3 linked regions of the Homo sapiens genome follow. The protein of the gene in region 2 interacts with the protein of the main gene of each other region in a biochemical or structural test. Each region holds a gene or a part of one and is shown on either strand. Other genes may lie near its edges. The genes, in order: ITCH, KSR1 and RAF1.

What was found.
Region 1: of the proteins of KSR1 (region 2) and ITCH, one has a biochemical effect on the other in vitro, tested with the Homo sapiens proteins (one study listed by BioGRID).
Region 3: of the proteins of KSR1 (region 2) and RAF1, one has a biochemical effect on the other in vitro, tested with the Homo sapiens proteins (one study listed by BioGRID).

What each region holds. Positions count from the first base shown.
Region 1 is NC_000020.11:34,369,764-34,373,415, forward strand, and holds part of ITCH (E3 ubiquitin-protein ligase Itchy homolog), read left to right. Parts: intron 1-2,938; exon of another isoform or gene 2,939-2,963; intron 2,964-3,652. UniProt on the Homo sapiens protein: Acts as an Acts as an E3 ubiquitin-protein ligase which accepts ubiquitin from an E2 ubiquitin-conjugating enzyme in the form of a thioester and then directly transfers the ubiquitin to targeted substrates.
Region 2 is NC_000017.11:27,609,931-27,613,582, forward strand, and holds part of KSR1 (kinase suppressor of Ras 1), read left to right. Parts: intron 1-136; coding exon 137-268; intron 269-919; exon of another isoform or gene 920-1,447; intron 1,448-1,563; coding exon 1,564-1,699; intron 1,700-3,652.
Region 3 is NC_000003.12:12,605,074-12,608,725, forward strand, and holds part of RAF1 (RAF proto-oncogene serine/threonine-protein kinase), read right to left. Parts: intron 1,227-3,652; coding exon 1,128-1,226; intron 1-1,127. UniProt on the Homo sapiens protein: Serine/threonine-protein kinase that acts as a regulatory link between the membrane-associated Ras GTPases and the MAPK/ERK cascade, and this critical regulatory link functions as a switch determining cell fate decisions including proliferation, differentiation, apoptosis, survival and oncogenic transformation.

The sequences.
Region 1 (3,652 bases), on a different chromosome or scaffold from region 2:
TATCTAGACATGTGCATGTGTAGGATTAAGAGGTGGGTAATGAAAAAGAAGACAACATGGCCAGGTGCAGTGGCTCATGCCTGTAATTCCAGCACTTTGTGGGGCGAAGGTGGGAGGATCACTTGAACCCAAGAGTTTGGGACCAGCCTGGACAACATGGCGAGACCCTGACTCCACACAAAATAAAAAAAAATCAGCTGGTGTGGTGGCGTGTACCTGTAATCCTAGCTGATTGGGAGGGTGACATGGGAGGATCACTTGAGCCAGGAGGTTGAGGCTGCAGTAAGCCATGATCACGCCACTGCACTCCAGCCTGGGTGACAGAGTGAGACCCTGTCTCGGAAAAAAAAAAAAAAAAAGACAACATGGTTCAGTGCAGAAAGAATAGAGGACTTGGAAAGAAAAGATCTGGGTTCCGATTTGATTTTGCCACTGACAAGCTGTGTGACTTTCGGCGAGTTATTTAATCTTGCCAGACCTCAGTTTATACATCTGTAAAATAGGTAAGTATTGATTCCTGTCTCCATCCCTGGCATTGTTGTGTGGATCAAATAAAATAATACCTATTAAATCTTTAGAAAAGGAAATGAATTCATGACTTAAAATGTTATCTTGGCCAGGCACGGTGGCTCATACCTGTAATCCCAGCACTTTGTTTGGGAGGCCAAGGTGGGCGGATCACTTGAGGTCAGGAGTTTGAAACCAGTCTGGTCAACATGGTGAAACTCCATCTCTACTAAGAATACAAAAATTAGCAGGGTGTGATGTCATGTGCCTGTATTCCCAGTTACTTGGGTGGCTGAGGCAGGAGAATCATTTGAACCCAGGAGGTGGACACTGCAGTAAGCCAAGATCGTGCCACTATACTCCAGCCTGGGCAACAGAGTGAGAGTCTGTCTCAAAAAAAAAAAAAAGAAAAGAAATGTTATCTAGATCCACAAGGTGAGAGAAGTTGAGAGTAGTATTGTGAAGGAAAACATGAGGACAAGACAGATCACTTTAAAAGGTCAGGAGAGAAGGAAGACTACTGGGTAAGAAAAAAAAAGTAGAACATAAAGTTAAGCAGTAAGAGAATAGGGAGTGAATGAAGTTGAGCAGGTGAATTGTTAGATAAGAAAGCTGAGGCTGGGCGCGGTGGCTCACGCCTGTAATTCCAGCACTTTGGGAGGCCGAGGCGGGTGGATCACGAGGTCAGGAGATCGAGACCATCCTGGCTAACAAGGTGAAACCCCGTCTCTACTAAAAGTACAAAAAATTAGCCGGGTGTGGTGGCGGGCGCCTGTAGTCCCAGCTACTCAGGAGGCTGAGGCAGGAGAATGGTGTGAACCTGGGAGGCAGAGCTTGCAGTGAGCCGAGATCACACCACTGCACTCCAGCCTGGGCAACAGAGCCAGACTCCGTCTCAAAAAAAAAAAAAAAAAAACTGAATAGGAAGATACTGGTAAAATAGAACTAAAATATGATCCAGCATTGCCACTTTTGGGTATATATCCAAAGGAAATAAAATCACTTCTTCTTTTTTTTTTTTTTTTTTTTTTTGAGATGGAGCCTTCCCCAGGCTAGAGTGCAATGGCACGATCTTGGCTCACTGCAGCTTCTGCCCCCTGGGTTCAAGTGATTCTCTTGTCTCAGCCTCCTGAGTAGCTGGGACTCGGGAGGCCAGGCGTGCACCCACCACACCTGGCTAATTTTGTATTTTCAGTAGAGACGGGGTTTCACCACATTGGCCAGGCTGCTCTTGAACTCCTGACCTCAGGTGATCTGCCCGCCTCTGCCTCCCAAAGTGCTGGGATTATAGGCGTGAGCCACTGAGCCCGGTCCTGTTCTTTTTTATAATCAAGAGAAAGGAAGGAGATGGTGGAATGATTTGTGATAGCTACTATAAAGCAATTTAAAAAATATTTAAAAGTATTATTAAAGTATTTAAAATATCTTTAAAATATTTCTCAGCATATCCATTTCATCTCAAGCTCACAAAGCAGTTCTTTGTGGAAAGGTATTTGAGCCAACATTCAGGAAACCTGCGTTCTACCATTGGTATTACTGGTCACTTAAATTCTGTGATCTTGGGCAGCTCACTTAAATCTCCCTGGGCCTGGTTTCCTCACTTATCTATTGAATGTTTTGAATATGATTTCTCAGGTTCTTTCCAGCTCACTCTATTATATTCTGTGCTTTATGTGCTAACTCACTGATTTTTCATGGCTTTGTTGACATCACAATATATGACTGATATCAGAAATATCTTATAATAAGGCTTCGGCCGGCCGCGGTGGCTCATCCCTGTAATCCTAGCACTTTGGGAGGCTGAGGCGGGCGGATCACGAGGTCAGAAGATCGAGACCATCCTGACTAACATGGTGAAACCCCGTCTCTACTAAAAATACAAAAATTAGCTGGGCGTGGTGGCGGGCGCCTGTAGTCCCAGCTACTCGGGAGGCTGAGGCAGGAGAATGGTGTGAACCTGGGAGGCGGAGCTTGCAGTGAGCCGAGTTCACGCCACTGCACTCCAGCCTGGGCGACAGAGTGACAGAGGGATACTTTGTCTCAAAAAAAAAAAAAAAAGGCTTCATAATGTCTGATGCTTTATAAATGAGAAACCATGTTATTTTAAGTTCTACTTTTTTTTTTTTTTGAGAGGGAATCTAACTCTGTCACCCAGGCTGGAGTGCAGTGGCGCAATCTCAGCTCACTGCAACCTCCGCCTCTCGGGTTCAAGCAATTCTCCTGCCTCAGCCTCCTGAGTAGCTGGGATTACAGGCACCCGCCACCATGCCTGGCTAATTTTTTGTATTTTTAGTAGAGATGGGGTTTCACCGTGCTAGCCAGGATGGTCTCGATCTCCTGACCTCGTGATCTGCCTGCCTCAGCCTCTCAATGTGCTGGGATTACAGGCATGAGCCACCGTACCCGGCCTTTTAAGTTCTACTTTAAACATTGGCACTGAGAGACCTGTAGGAAACGTAAGTATAGAAAGTTTAAGTTTGTAATATTTGACAAGGATCTGTTGAGCTGCTATTGTGCTAGGTTCCAAGGGGTACTCAAATATAAAACTCCTGGTTTAAGGATTTTGTCAGGAAAACAGACTTCCTTGCCAGTGATTGATTATTATAAAAAGGAAGTTGGTAAATGTTACAAGAGTTTCATTGCATTGCAATTTAAGAAATTAAGTTCAGATTTTTTGGTTCCTTTAACATGATTGAATGTATTCCTTTTTTTTTTTTTTTTGAGACGGAGTTTTTCTCTTGTTGCCGAGGCTGGAGTGCAATGGTGCAATCTCAGCTTACTGCAGCCTCCACCCACTGGGTTCAAGCGATTCTCCTGCCTGAGTCTCCCAAGTAGCTGGGATTATAGGCATGTGCCACCACGCCCAGCTAATTTTGTATTTTTACTAGAGATAGGGTTTCACTGTGTTGGTGAGGCTGATCTTGAACTCCTGACCTCAAATAATCCACCTGCCTCGACCTCCCAAAGTTCTGGATTACAGGCATAAGCCACTGCACCTGGCCAAATGTATTTTTTTTTTTTTTTTGAGGCAGAGTCTTGTTCTCGCCCAGGCTGGAGTGCAGTGGTGTAATCTTGGCTCACTGCAACCTCCGTTTCCTGGGTTCAAGCCATTCTCCTGCCTCAGCCTCCTGGGTAGCTGGGATTA
Region 2 (3,652 bases):
CAGTGTTCTGGGTCTGGGTGTGTTTTCTAAGCTGTGTGTGGGTGTTCTGCCGGCCCTGGGGCAGACCTGTGCCAGGCAGGCCTCTTTGCTGCCTGCTGAAAGGCCTGTGTCCTTGTCCCGGCTTCCTGGTCTCCAGGCGTGAGAACCAGCTAAAGCTGTCCCACGACTGGCTGTGCTATCTGGCCCCTGAGATTGTACGCGAGATGACCCCCGGGAAGGACGAGGATCAGCTGCCATTCTCCAAAGCTGCTGATGTCTATGCATTTGGGTGAGTAGGCCCCTGGTGCCCTGAGGCCAAGTGTGGCCAAAACAGAGGGCCCTGGTGGCCATTGGGGGCAGAGGGAGGCATGCTTTTAGGTGTTGAAAACCCAGGCTCTGGAGTAAAAAATCAACCTTGAGTCCTGGCTCTGCCGCTTGTTGAGTGCATGGTCTTGAGTCCTGGCTCTGCCGCTTGTTGAGTGCATGACTATATCCTTGACCTGGAATAGCTCCTCCCAACAAGGTCATTTCATGAGGACTAAATCAGGTAATTGTGTGCAGTGCTTAACACTGGCTGTCAGCCCCACCCAGCTGATCTGGGAGGATGCTCACCAGAGCTGACCAAGAACTGCTCCTCCCAGTCTGGGGGAGCTGGATATCCTGCCGGCTCTGCTACCCCACAAAGACCTGGGTGCTGACCAGTAGCAATATAATGTGAGCCCGATATAGAAGTTAAAGTTTTCTAATAGCCACATTAAAAAAGAAATGGATGAAATTAGTTTCCCCTGTTTATGTTTTATATATTATAAAACGATATATTTTATTTAACTCAATATATCCAAAATATTATTTCAACATGTAATCAATATACAAATTAATAAGATATTTTATATTCTTTTTTCCTACTAAGTCTTTAAAATCTGGTGTGTTTTCTGCCTAGAGCACCCCTCCATTCAACTGTGCACATTTCAGTCACTCAGTAGCCCCCCTGTGGCAAGAGGCTCCCACATTGGACAGTGTGGGTCTGATGGAGAAAGTCCCATCCCAAGTGAAGAAAGCCAAGGGGACGTAGAGAGGCCAAGGAAGGCTCACCACCCCGGTCACCTGTGCTGTATCTGGGTATCCTTCCCAGTGGGGTGGCCTTGGCGCCATCCTTCCTCCCTGACCTTTAACTGTATCCTTTCCTGAGCACCCATGTGTGCCAGGTGCTGGGCTTGGCAATTTAGTACTCCTCAAACAACCCTGTGACAAGAGACATTAGCCCCACTGAGGTGAAGCAGTTTTACTGGGATCTTGCAGCTAGAAGGTGGCAGAGCTGGATTTGTGCTGAGGTCAGAATGACCACCAAGGCTCCGGTCAAACCTGCGCTGTCTCAGACTTCCCACCCAACGAGAGCACAGGGCCCAGGTCCTCTAGGGCTGGGAGGAGCCTCCAGGAGCCCACTGTAGCATCCCCTGAAGCCAAGTGGGTGAGGAAGGCTGGAGAAGGGTCCTGATCCTCTGGCTGGGCTATGGCTCAAGGGCCCCTGGGCTTGAGCTGGGCACAGCGGCCCAGGAGCTCACAGACATGGCTGGGTCTCTGCAGGACTGTTTGGTATGAGCTGCAAGCAAGAGACTGGCCCTTGAAGAACCAGGCTGCAGAGGCATCCATCTGGCAGATTGGAAGCGGGGAAGGAATGAAGCGTGTCCTGACTTCTGTCAGCTTGGGGAAGGAAGTCAGTGTAAGTAGTACCTGCCCTGGGTGGAGCAGTAGGGCTGGAGGTGGGGTGGGGCATGTGGCATGGCTGCCCTTCACTCACCCACCTGAGAAATGGGGTCGGTGAGGAGCTCTGCCACCTGCACGTGTCTAGCTAGAGATGAAAATGATATGCATTGCCCGGGAATGGGGAAGGAACAGGGAGGCATAAATAAGAAAATATCTATCCTCACCCCACTGCTCACCCTTTTCATTCCTTTCAGTCTTTTTTTTTTCTTAAAGATAATGGTTTTCATTGATTTATGAGATGAAAAGAAAGTAAAGCCCCATGTTATTTACATGAAAGAAGATAATTTTTTTTAAAAAAATCACTGCTGAAAATACAAATAGTTGTGCTATGCTGTGGTATTAAATCTTTCCTCATAATGTTTTTCTTGACTATTAAGAACAAATCAAAGTTTCCACAGCAAACTTGTTTTCAAAAAACCAAGTCTTAATTATAGTGGCCGACTTCTCATTTCTACATGGTTTCTCCTTAATGGATTCTCTGTGTTTGTAAGTTTTGTCAGGCTAAATAAGAGAGAGAGGCTCTCAAAAGATGTTTATTTGGAAATAGAGCGTTGCACTGGGAATATGCATGCCATGGTGAATGGCTTGCTTATTCAGGGAGGTAAAGGAAAAAATGAAGAGGATTACACAATTATTTTGACATATTTAGTAGTTTTCCCTGGCTACAGAGATGAGTAACAAGAGTGATGTCAGTCCAAGGTTAGACAGGTTGTTTGAGGCAGATGTCCTTGTAGGAGTATTTTTGTATAAGGTTGCCATGGCCTTCGTACAAGGTTGCAGTTTTTGCAGTCTTTAGTGGTAGTTTTTGTTATCAGACATACAAGCCCAAGAAGCCTCTCTTCATGGCTTTCCCAGGCCCGATTTGTCAGAGTTTTCTTCACATTTGTGACTCTCTTTTGATTCTGACAGCTTTCAGTTTCCTTTATCACAGCACAGTGATATATAAAGAAACTCCAGGGCTTGGTGTTTTCAGTGCCATCAGTGATAGCCATGTGTCCATGAATCAGATAGGATTGGGACAGAACAGCCTTGATGTTAATAAGCAACTCCAGTCAGTATTTGGGCAGCATAACAATTGAAGTCTTCAGAGGGACCACCCAGCACTTGTCCAGGCTAAGATACAAACAGGCTGTGAGCTTCTTGTTAAGGTCATGAACATTGCTGGCAGGATCACTGTCTGTCTGCAGACTCTGTCTGCAAATTTGCAGTGATGAATTCAACCTCATCGTCCTCCAAGTTCTTAATAGATGGTAATATTTTTCTCAATTGACTGGTGGCAAGCAGCTAGGGCGTCTTCAGAAGGCTCACTCAAGATGACATTATATCTGATCTACTTTATTCCACAGTAGTATATGTCATCTTGTTGAAGTGCAAAATATTTGTACGGGGATGCCCCTCCAAAGATGACACCAAAATGCTATTTAACAACACGAACAGCAGGCTCCTCTTTGGCCAGTTGATACCATTTCATCTGGGGTGCTGGGCAAGGGCCATGGGTGATGAGCACTTCTCTGACACTCTGAGGCCCGTCCTTCTTGGCCTCCTTCTGGGCCAGGGCCAGTTAAACACCACCTTCACCTTGGTGCATCCTCGGGTGCCTTAGGAGCGTGTGGTGGTGATGCAGAATTTTTTGCTCCTTAGCTCAGCTAAAATCCAGGTTCTTGTCTCATGACCAGGAAAAATTAGGCATGCGGACACATTGAAAGGTGAGGAGAGTGGAATTCATTAAAAGAAACCTCTCAGCAAAAAAGAGGGGGTCCTCCCAACAGGCTCCCATCTCACAGATTGAATATCAGGCCACCACACACGAGCTGAAGAGGCCAGGCTCCTCCCCTGCATAAGGCGCGAATTCCTGGTGGCTCCACCCTATTCCCCCAGTGCATGTGGGTCTCCAGTCCATTGTGGGTGT
Region 3 (3,652 bases), on a different chromosome or scaffold from region 2:
TCTAATCTTCAGAGGTAACTACAAATTCTTGGTCAGATTTGCTTTTCAAATTATCAAGAAAAATAAAAGCCATACAGAAATATATATCCAGATATATGCAAATTCCTTATTCTAAGATATGCTGCGTTTAATATTTCCATAGTATTTTCACATTAAACATTATCTGATTACACATTATGTGTGTGTGTGTGTGTGTGTGTGTGTGTGTGTATACATAATATATTTTTTTTTGGAGACAGAGTCTTGCTCTGTCACCAAGGCTGGAGTGCAGTGGTGCCATCTCAGCTCACTGCCTACCACGTTCAAGATTCTCCTGCTTCAGCCTCCCAAGTACCTGGGCCAAAAGGCACATATCACCACACCCACCCAGTTTTTTGTATTTTTAGTAGAGATGGGGTTTCACCATGTTGGCCAGGCTAGTCTGGAACTCCTGACCTCAAGTGGTCCATCTGCCTCGGCCTCCCAAAGTGCTGGGATTACAGGTGTGAGCTACCGTGCCTGGCCTAAAGTAAGATATTTTGGATGTAGATTTTACTTTAGGTTTCAAATTCATGTGTGTTAACACTGAGCAGTAGATAAACGCAACAAAACTGATTATAAAGCTGGAAAACAGAGTAAAGAAAGACAAGTTATATGCAAACTCAGAGACACATGAGAAACAATATTTATGCTGAAAATCTAATTAAATGTTTTTAAAGACACTAGTCTATTTAAATACATGGTTTTAGCAAATGCATCGGCCACAACATGCATTTCAAAGTTAAGGGTTTTATTTTTATCAAATCACTGTATTAAGTTTTAGGACCCTTTCCATTGAGGTTGAACTCAGTACATACTGAGGAAAGCAGAATCTCAAGCTCTTTAAAATGTAATGACATATTAAGAAATATGCTATGATAACAGAAGAAGCTACAGTCAAAGTCACTTTCCAGAATGTAAGACCTACAGGTCCATAAACAGAAATTTCTACCTTTTCTGTACCACCAGTATCAAGTTCCACAGAAGCAGCAAGGGGTTTCCACGTAGAGAGGAGGGAATGCGAAGAAACTCTTATTTTTTGTCTTCAAGCTTCCAACCCCACCACCCCAAATAACTTTCTAAAAGAAAAGCTATAGGTAAAAAATTACCTAACAGGCATCCTGGAAACAGACTCTCGCATACGACGCATAGTCAAAGAAGGTAGTGCTGGGACTCCACTATCACCAATAGTGGAATTTGGAAACAATCTAAACAAAAGCAGGGAAAGACTGGTTTTTAGGCTTGCAGTAATCTTACAGAGACAATCAGCATGCCTTGCTTTTGCAAACTCAGAGCTACTAAAACTGAACTTTTCCCAGTCACATTTTCCTCAACTGTTTTACATTACCTAGAATAAAGGGAACAATATTCCAAATAACTGGATTTGAATGATTATTGAATGTGAATAATACTGACCTGCCAATAAACATACAGGCTCCTGTGTGCTTTTTCTTTTTCTTTTTTTTTAAGATGGAGTCTCACTCTGTTGCCCAGGCTGGAGTGCAGAGGTGTAATGGCGGCTCACTGCAACCTCCACCTCCCGGGTTCTCCTGCCTCAGCCTCCCAAGTAGCTGGGATTACAGGCACACACCACCATGCCCAGCTAATTTTCGTATTTTTTTTTTAATTATACTTTAAGTTTTAGGGTACATGTGCACAACATGCAGGTTTGTTACATAGGTATACATGTGCCATGTTGGTGTGCTGCACCCAGTAACTTGTCATTTAACATTAGGTGTCTCTCCTAATGCTATCCCTTCCCCCAATTTTTGTATTTTTAGCAGAGACGGGGTTTCACTATGTTGGCCAGGCTGGTCTCGAACTCCTGACCTCAGGTGATTCACCTGCCTTGGCCTCCCAAAGTGCTGGGATTACAGGCGTGAGCCACCGCGCCCGGCCCAGTGTGCATTTCTAGGAAATACTGGTCCTGTGTCTAGCTATATCAAAATAATATTTTTCAAACTACAGTATAACATTTCACAAACTATGTCACACACAGCTTCTCTGGAAACATTCCATCTTGAAAATGCATAGATAAAAGACTAAAATAGAAGGAATAAATCACAGAAAAGTGAGTAATTAGGCACCTTTTTTCCATGAGGTGGGCACTTGTGCTTAGTAATTTCACAGGTTATGTCAGCAAGCCTCATAAGAACAATGCAAGGAAGGTAATATCCCCTTTATTCAGATGCATGAACGAAAACTCAGATGTGGTTATGGTTAATGACAACACTGAGATTTTGACATATGTCTGTTAGACTCAAAAGCTTGTGCCGCCGGATGCGGTGGCTCACACCTGTAACCACAACACTTTGGAAGGCCAAGGCGGACAGATTGCTTGAGCTCAGGAGTTCGAGACCAGCCTGGGCAACATGCTGAAACCCCGTCTCTAGAAAAAATACAAAAATTAGCTAGGCATGATGGCATACACTTGTAGTCCCAGCTACTCAGGAGGCTGAGGTAGGAGGATTACTTGAACCCGAGAGGTCGAGGCTACAGTGAGCTGTGATCATGCCACTGCACTCCACTGTGGGAGACAGAGCGAGACCCTGTCTTTAAAAAATAATAATAAAAAAAAAGGCTGGGCGTGGTGGCTCATGCCTGTAATCCCAGCACTTTGGGAGGCCGAGGTGGGCAGATCATGAGGTCAAGAGATCGAGACCATCCTGGCCAAGATGGTGAAACCTCATCTCTACTAAAACTACAAAAATTAGCTGGGCGTGGTGGTGTGTGCCTGTAGTCTGAGCTACTCGGGAGGCTGAGGCAGGAGAATCACTTGAACCTGGGAGGCAGAGGTTGCAGTGAGCCGAGATCATGCCACTGTACTCCAGCCTAATGACAGAAAGAGACTTGTCTCCAAAAAAAAAAAAAAAAAAAAAAAAGGGTGGGGGACAAAAATAAGATAAATTTTAAAAGCTTGTGCCATTTGTGCTACTCAAGCTCTCATCACAAAATCAATACGTAAGTGACCATGAAAGCAAAAACATTTTCATCATGGTCTAATAATAACACTCCCTTGGTTTCTCTAGTACTGTCAAAAAAGGACAAAACTTTTAAACTTTTCATATACCTAGTTACAGTTTTTAAAAGGCAGTTTGGACCATGTACTTTTAATGTAAACTTTAAATTCTTTAATAACATTTTATCTATATGAAATATATTGTCTCCTGAAAGAAACAAGAATCTTTCAAGATTTTATATTCAAACAATTTTAAGTCCAAACAACTAAGTTTTCTCCAGTTTGAAGTGAAGAAAATAGCATCAACGGTGCTTTCTGCTCCTTCTCAATGTCAAAGGCTCATTCAGCATATTCAACAAAATACAGAGCAGTGTCTACTAGCAACCCCAGTAGATAATACTATTAAGAGCGAAAAGCAAAAAATCTTCTTGTTTTCATATCCTTTTGCTCCTTTCCTTACTGAATCACAGTCACAGTATGTCAATCTCAATTTGACAGATAACAAGTCCTACTCCTACCTGCTCATTCTGGAGTATGAATGCCACCAAACCTAGCTAGTTTCAGAATTATCACTGTTTCTAAAGTAGTTTCTGGATCACAATTCATTAAATGAGTCTAGAATCCAGACCTGTCAGTCAAAATCTACAACAAATACCCTTTAAAGTATGTATACTC